Regions from separate parts of the Homo sapiens genome. Here region 2 is linked to region 1. A link means that fine-mapping ties the variant in region 1 to the expression of a gene that starts in the linked region. Tissue or cell type: whole blood. Region 1 holds a variant in brackets; the other region holds the start of a gene. All regions are shown on one strand. Distances are from middle to middle.

Region 1 (4,389 bases):
ACGGTGAAATGCCATCTCTGTAAAAAATACAAAAACTAACCTGGCATGGTGGTGTGTGCCTGTAATCCCAGCTACTTGGGAGGCTGAGGTGGGAGAATTGCTGGAGACCCGGAGGCAGATGTTGCAGTGAGCTGAGACTGCACCACTGCATTCCAGCCTTGGCAACAGAGTGAGACCCTGTCTCAAAAAAAAAAAAAAAAAATGAGCTGTTTGTCTTATCTATGAGTTATAAGAATTCTTTATATATTTAAGATACAAGTCCTTTATCAGATATATGTTTTGAAAATATTTTTTCCCCAGTGTATAGCTGGACTTTTCATCCTTTTAAATTTTTATTTTTCTTTTTGAGGCGGAGTCTCACTCTGTTGCCCAGGCTGGAGTGCAGTGGCGTGATCTCAGCTGACTGCAACCTCTGCCCCCTGGGTTCAAGCGATTCTCCTGCCTCAGCCTCCCGAGTAGTTGGGATTACAGGCACCTGCCACCACACCTGGCTAATTATTTTTTGCATTTTTAGTAGAGACAGGGTTTCACCATCTTGGCCAGGCTGGTCTTGAACTCCTGACCTTGTGATCCACCTGCCTTGGCTTCCCAAAGTGCTAGGATTACAGGCATGAGCCACTGCGCCCAGCCCAGCAGTTTTTTCTTTTGTTTTGTTTTGTTTTGTTTTGTTTTGTTTTGTTTTGTTTTGTTTTTGAGATGGAGTCTCACTCTGTCATGAGGCTGGAATGCAGTTACGCGATCTTGGCTCACTGCAACCTCCACCTCCCTGGTTCAAGCGATTCTCCTGCCTCAGCCCCCCGAGTACTGGGACTGCAGGCGCGCACCACCAAGCCCAGTTAATTTTCGTATTTTTAGTAGACACAGGGTTTCACCATGTTAGCCAGGATGGTCGCAATCTCCTGACCTCATGATCCGCCCACCTCAGCTTCCCAAAGTGCTGGGATTACAGGTGTGAGCCACCACGCCTGGAAAAAAAATTTTATTTAATTATATGTTTTATATAGAAATAGGGTCTTGCTATGTTGGCTGGGCTAGTCTTGAACTTCTGGCCTCACGCAATCTTCCTGTCTTGGCCTCCCAAAGTGCTGGGATTACAGGCAGGAGCCACTGTGCCCAGCCAACTTTTTATTCTTTCAATATTGTTTTTTGAAAGCAAAGGTTTTAAATGTTAAAGTTTAATTCATTCATTTTTTAATGGTTAATAGTTTTTATGTTCTACCTAAGAAATCTTTGCTTAGTCCAAAGTCCCAAAATTTTTTTAAAAAATATTTTTTGCAAGTTTTATAATTTTATTTCTTATATTTAGAGGTCTATGGCACATTTTTATTAATTTTTGTGAATAGTGTGAGGTAGGGGTCAACATTCTTTTTTCATGCATATGGATATTTGATTATTCCAGCACTATATATTTTTTTCACAAAGACTACTAACTACTACCTGCTGAGTGTTAAGCTGTACTTCTTAAAATTTACTTTGTGTTTCAAACATAGAATAACTCTTTTATGCACCTCTTCTTTTAGGCAACTGGGAACACTGAACTCCAGGGAAGTGGGGGTGGGGACCAACTGTAGGAATTTGTGTGATTTTCTATGCCTATTTTCTATCAGTTGACGTAATGCCCAATATATCACCTCATCAGAAGCAAGTTCCACTGATAATCTCCCATTTTCTGGGTCAAAAATTTTGTTAAGAGCTTTGCTAAGCACTTAACTTTGAGGGTATAATGATAAAATCAAGCCATAAGCATTTAGAAAGTCAACAAATCCATGATGGAACAAAGAGTACAGAAACTTTCTACCCATAGGCTCAGATGATGCACATATACCACAAACACAGGATGAAAATCCTCACATTTCTTGTGTCTGAAATCAGTGTGCAGAAAACTTAATTTTATATTCCCTAAG[G/A]AATGTTTAACGGCGTTGGTCAATGTTTGTGAGGCTGGGGGAACACTTCTCTCCTACTTCTGCTAGTTCCTTACTTGTCAGAGAATAACCTCTAACGTAACTCACCCTGCATCTATCCAGGCTGTCACCCTTCTCTTTGGGAGGTGGAGTAACTTACTTGATTGATGGGTTCAGAACATGCATAGGGATGAGCACTGTAGTTTATTGGGGCTCTTAAACTCCAAAGGTCCAGACAAAATAGAATGCTAAAGATTGGTTTAATAAATGTTTCAGTATTCAGTTATAAGACATGTCTTCTCCAAGTCCACAAAGCATGAAATAGGCTTAAAGTACAGTCAGAGATTTTTGTTTCTACATAATAACTTCCTATTAAAAGAATCAGGCAGCTCAAAATGGCCATTGAATTTGGATATTTAGAACTAGGACCAGCAACTTGTTGTTAAAGAATGGTTTTATTCTATTTTGAAGCAGAATTTATATTAAAAGACCTGTTGAGGTTTATTTTAGGTCTATGAATTTATTGATAAATAGAAGTGTTTTTCAGCAAATGAACAATACCAAAAATAAACAAGCTTAAACTCTTATGATACAATATCTTTATGCCTCCTGAATGTGCTTTTTCCTTGTTGATATCAAAACCAAATGAGGAGTTCTTTGGTTCTTTGCATTGAAACCAAGTATTAGTTCTCATGATTCGGGTAATATTCTTTGTCTTAATGTCGTATTCAAATTGCTTTGATCCACGGCTGAAAAAGAAGAATCCTAGAGACAGGGAATCAGGATTAGTTATCTTTCATAACTATATAATACTTCCATACTTTTAAATTTTATAAACATGGAAAAAAATAACATTATGGAGAACGAAGAAATTTGTGGAATCACATACATACATTTTAGTTTTCTACTGTCATGTGGGAAATCCTATTATTTTTATTTCCCTAAGGAGGAAGCCAGTGTTATAAAGGGTGAGTTTCAAGGGACTTTTTACCTTTCTAGCCAGACTGTGGTCTATGCCAGAGGTTTTCAAACTAGGCTTCAACAAAGTGTCTCAGTGAGGGGGAGGAAAAGGCCCCTGTGGATATGGCCTTGGTCTCTATATTCTCATTTTCTTAGAGCCGTTCTACTTTGATCTGTTTTAGGTTTTGAGGTTCTGTGTTAGATTTCATTGTAATAATAGATCATGTCACTCAAAGATATTTCTAGATTACCCCATGGTCTAGGTCATTGTCTTGGATGATATAGTTGCTGGATTGTATTCATTACATTGCCTGAGGTTCTTTTAAAACTGCAGATTCTTAGGTATCACTCACAATTCTGCCTCAAATACTTTGTTTCACACACAAACCCCAAGCTATGTACATTAAGGTACATACATTAAAGTTTGAGAATCATTGTTTTGTTCATGTGCTTAGTCACTTCGCACACTTTAGGGGGTGTCTTTACTTATCAATGATGAGTAAAATGGATTTGGTACTTTTTACATAGATTTGAGATAGTATAACAGAGAGTATAATTCAGGATTTATGGATTCAGTTTGTGATAATGTTTGTGGGGTTAATGTTTATTATTGTATATACTTAAGAGTAGCAAAATTGCATTAAAATAAAAGCATTTAAGTTTTTGTGCTGTCTTTTTTCACAGTCAACACAGTCTCTCAAGTATCCCAATAAGTGAGACATCCATGCTTACCTTTGTACTGGAAAGCAGCATCAACACGGATACTGATTCCAGGAAAGTGTTTTACCACTCTCTGCGGGAACCCTTTGTCCATGGTTTGGGTCATTTCATCAAACCTGCATACAAGAATATGAAAGGATACCAGCGGATCTTTGGTTTGGGGAGCTTAATTTGTCTACCGCACAACTTAGAGTCAAGCAGGGATGTGGGGAATACATAGGCATAGTAGAGGAAAACTAATTGGATCAATAATAAAAATACAGTAAAGATTATGTTTGGTTGAATCATTTATAGAATCTTCCAAACAAGAAATGATCAGGGAAAAAGGGCACAACATATGTTAGATTGATGCTATTCAGAGAAATCGTTACATCAGATTGAAGGCTGAGCTTGGAGCTTTCAAAATTTTTCACTAGATATGTTTGTGTCATTGGCAATTTGGTTGGGATCACCAACTTTTTATTTTATCTTATCTTTTTTTTTAAATTGAAGGAAAGTCATTAGACTCATTGAGATCTCTTTCGGCTTGATAAATGTCATCCACTGCCTTCATTATTCACTTTAAGAAGACTATGGGCTGGGCGTGGCGACTCATGCCTGTAATCCCAGCACTTTGAGAGGCCGAGGTGGGTGGATCGCTTGAGCCCAGGAGTTCGAGACCAGACTGAGAATCATGGTGAAACTCCATCTCTACAAAAAGTACAAAAATTAGCCAGGCGTGGTGGCACATGCCTGTAGTATCAGTTACTTGGGGGTTGCTGAGACAGGAGGATCTCTTGAAAGCAGGAGGTCGAGGCTGCAGTGAGCA
Region 2 (4,389 bases), 33 kb after region 1:
TCTTCCTTGTAGACTGATACTGGTTGCTTGGTAATTGGTAGAACTTTTCCAGGTAGTCCTGGACAAAGACAAGCACATAGGGGTCTTGCTGTGAAAGGACCTCCAGTTCTCTGGTCATTTTGCAACCCTTTCTAAGTTACTACAGAGGTCTGATAACTTGACAGCCACAGGAACAATAACACAAATTAATTTGTAGGTTGGCTTTGAGAGAACAACTCTTTTTAGAAAGAACAGTTCCTCCACTCAGTGCTCCAGTTAATGGTTATGCATAAAAAAGGGTGTCTCATAAGGGATGAGGATCACATCACACAGGCAAAGTGCTACTCTACAGTCAGGAGACTGTCTTCTTGTTTTTACAAAAAAATTAGGACTAACATTAATTGACTTCTCTTGAGGTATTTGTTGCATCAGTGCAGTTCCTCTTTTTTATCCTCTTCACTACTGTAGAAAAGGCTTATTTATTCTGCTGAACAAACAGAAGCACAGAGAATTAAGGAATTTTCCAAGTGATGATTCAGATTTTAACTCACCATGTTGCCTCTCAAATGAGAACTGATAATTTCAAAATAATTTCAAATATCTTTTAGGGGAACAGCAATATCATTGATATTAGCATTTTATTCACCAAAGTAACTCTTTGGAAGTGTTAAATTTAGTCAAAATCCAAAGAGTTTAGCCTAAAAATTACCTATTTTAAGTTTGGCTTAAAAGTTTCTTCATACACAGTGAAATGTAACCTAACTAGACCTCATGCTGCCTGTGAACACCTGGCACCTTGTCAGTGTCTTAGTCCATTTTCTGTTGCTATAACAGAATATCTGAAGCTGGGTAACTTATACATAAAAGGGGCTGATTTTCTCTCACAATTCTGGAGGCTGGGAAGTCCAAGATCAGGTGGCTGCATCTGGTTGGCTTCTGAGATGGCCTTGTGCTGTGTCATAACATGGCAGAGAAACAAAAGGGGAGCAAGCATGTGTGAAAAGGGGCAAAACACAAAGGGCAGCCCCTCTTTATAATACCCATTCTATTAATTACTAATCCAGTTCTGCAAGAGCCAGAACCCACTCCAGCAAAAATTAATCCAGTCACACAAGAGTGTCATTAATCTTTCTTAATGACCTAAGTACTTCTTAAAGGACCCACTGTCACATGGGCTACTAAATCTTTAACACATAAATTCAAGGGACACACTCTAACCACAGCAGTAGGTGACACTGACCAGATCACACGCTTTGGAATCAGACAGGCCTGGGTTCAAATCTTAACTCTGCCATGAATTAACTGTGAGCACTTGGCCACATTATTTATCTGATTTAAGATATTTTTGTCTCTGAAATGAAAATAATAATGCTCCAATAAGGTTCTTGTGAGGATTAAATGAGATATTTGTGAAATGTGTAGCAGTTGCCTTGCATAGAATAAGCACTCAATGGACTTTACATTAACCCGGGGGTTACAATTAAGAGATAACCTCTTAATAATAATAATGCTTTCTCCAAACTATAATGCTAAGAAAACTGTGCATGAGAGATTTGTGACAGAATTCCCTTGTGTTTCTTAAAAATTTGGGTTCACTTTCAGACTGTGAAACAATGGAAAAAAACTATTGGTTCTGCTTTTATAATGCTTCCAAGAGTTTATAAACAGTCCACAATCTGATGCTGGGAAATATGATTTTACTGTGTACTGATTTCTAGTTCATTGTAATCTACCATCCTCACATTATTTTCTATATCTGGAATTTTTGGCGGCAAAGAAAATGCCTGTATGGAAGCACCAGACATATAGTAACTTGATTGCAGATATCCTGGAAGGAAAAACCTTAGGTAAATGAGAAAGAAAATGATACCATTTTATAAATAAAACCATTTCTTCTACAAAAGTTTCCCAACTAGGGGTAACTCTACAGCAGTATTTTCCCAGCCTTTAAAGAATTCAGCTTGTTTTCATGTCCGGCTTTTAAAAGGCCTAGTCCTTACCAGCTTGGAACCCTCCAAATCACTAAAAGGAGATGTTCAATCTCAAACTAATCACCCAAATAATTTCTTTCAGGCTGTTTTAATTAACAAGAGAAAACAACCCACACTATTTCCTAATAATCAGCAAATCAAACATCACCTAACTGATAGTTCATTTACCTGAACAGTTTTTGTATTTTTCTCTTTAGAAGATACAGGAAAGGCCTTGGAAATCTGCACATGGAGTAAGAGCAGAAATGGAAGCGTCTTCAGGGAGAACATGATCTTCTCTTCAAACTCTACCCCTCCTGGCTTTCTTTCTGTCCCTCTGGGTAGGGCCCTTCCCTGGCGAGCACCCTGACGTTCACAGCATCATGTGTCACTCACAGCTCTCTTGCAGTCCTCTTTAAAGCCATGTCTTAAACAATTGCTGCATCAGGAATATGAAGCAACATAGGTTAATTACACTCTGACAGTTTTGCAATTTTATAATGTGATTTAGTACCCCCAAATGGGGGAGTCTTTCAACAGTCTTTCAAAACTCCAACTTTCTACTCTTTGCTTTTGGATGTTTTAGTTATTTCCTTTTACAAAATTGGTTGAGGAAAAGGAACAAGGGACTAATCCTGAAGTTATGTGGATACATTTTTTGACTATGTAAGATGTTGAGGTTGAATTAACTTATGCAGGGGAATATTTTGAGGTTTGTGGTAGATATCTTGGGACCAAGGAGCCCAACTAGAGAATCTCTGTACTTACCCTCCCTCATTGTATGTGGAGAGAATGAGTGACTGTGTTATTACAAAGCAGGCTTTGTATGGGGCCTAGAGCTGCTTCTGGAGGATGTGGTTTGGTATCAACATATTAGAAAATCCCTAGTCTATAAGTTAGACTTTCCATGGAAAAGATAAAGAGAACAATACTGATGATGATAATAATGAACATTTGCTAAAAAATTATGATTGCCCAGACATTTGTACTGTGTTCCACATATTACCCCAATCCATCTTCACATAGCCTTGGGAGGGAGATGCTATTACTATCTCCATTTTACAGATGAAATCAAATCCAGAGACATTTAGATGACCTGTTTAAGTCACATGTTTCATTTGTGGAGGGGCCAGGATTCAACCCCAGAGGGTATGTTTAGAGAGACTGAGCTGGGAGCTACTATAAGCTCTGCATGGTAGTCTCCCACTTGAGTCTCTGGCTGGGCCATAGTGGAGCAGCAGCTCTAGGCCTTCAACAGCTGGATACTTTGGCTTATATTCACAGGCAGAAGACAAGGGAGAGGGAGAATGAGATGTTGTACATCTTCAAGGAGTAAGACACTGAGAGATTTCCAGACAATATGGCTACATAGGAGACTGTTTGTCAGAGGCCCCTGGGCATGCTTTTCAAATCATGTAACCTGGTCCCACTTATTCTGAGTCCACATGCATGTAGTTTGTTATCATACACAGTCTTTGTGAATACTCATTTACATATATGCATACATATTTGGTAAAGGCAGGTATTCTTGTGTATAAATGCATGTGTCTACATGTATGATACATAGCATGTATTAATATGTAAAGAGTGTATTTGAGATGCTATGATAAGGAGTTCTGATCTTTCCTGAGGTCACTTAGGAACTTTGAAAATGATCCAAAGAAAGGTGTCTTGGGTTAGAACATATCTGGACAGCAGATTAATGTTAATGATGTATATTCCTACATTCATTCAGTAAACATTTCCTGTCATCTACTACATGCCACATGCTGTGATGGGTGCTAGAGTATTGGAGATAAATTAATAGAGGTTTGGATAAAATGCTGTGGGTGTTTGGAGGAAACAGCAGTGGTGTGGAGGGAGTGAAATCAAGGAAGGTTTCATGAGGGAGGTGGAATTTGAACCGGATCATGAAGAGGTAGAATGTAGACATGCAGAGATGTAGCAACCCATTCTTTGTATTAATATAAATGTGACAGCTTCCTGCCAAATTGTTCAAAGATCACGGTCATGTTCATCCTCCTTGAGTTCATGGCTTAATGTGGCTTTCTTTACATTAGGTCTTTGGTGAAAAAATGCTTTTTCCTCCACGAAAATGCCTTAACATTGGTCTAACTCTATGTTGAGTTATTTTGATGCAATGGCTTGCTTACAAGGTTTATAAATGTACTTTCTTCTGAACATAACAGCAAGTGATTTAGTTGAGAATCTAAAACTTCGGTAAACTTAGTTTTTGGTGTTTGGGTAAATGCTATGTTAAAAAATTGAACGGTTGGGTCTGGATTCCCCCAACAGGCCCAGCCCTGGTGCAGTGGTGGAGAAGGCTATACTGCATTTGCTTTCAGGGCTCCAGCTTGTGCCTTCTGAATCCTTTCTCCACACCTGACCACTGTCTACCTCCGTGGTGTCTGTGCCTCACCTGCTTCTGGTCCCTGGGACT

What was found. PIP is the estimated chance that this variant, and not a neighbour inherited with it, causes the effect. A credible set is the group of variants that fine-mapping cannot tell apart.
Region 2: MMP8 starts here. The variant in region 1 is the best candidate, but not a certain one, in a credible set for the expression of MMP8 in whole blood (TOPMed, PIP 0.88).

The regions. Positions count from the first base shown.
Region 1 is chr11:102,689,345-102,693,733 of GRCh38, forward strand. It overlaps MMP27 (matrix metallopeptidase 27), which reads right to left. Exons shown (of 10, transcript NM_022122.3): 9 at 3,594-3,697; 10 at 2,143-2,666. The coding sequence ends at 2,422. Among named protein-coding and RNA genes, the nearest start is that of MMP27, 14 kb to the right of the region's middle. The variant G/A (reference allele first, on the strand shown) is at 1,905.
Region 2 is chr11:102,722,616-102,727,004 of GRCh38, forward strand. It overlaps MMP8 (matrix metallopeptidase 8), which reads right to left and starts at 2,339. Exons shown (of 10, transcript NM_002424.3): 1 at 2,139-2,339; 2 at 1-58. The coding sequence starts at 2,240. RefSeq lists an enhancer at 1,546-2,745.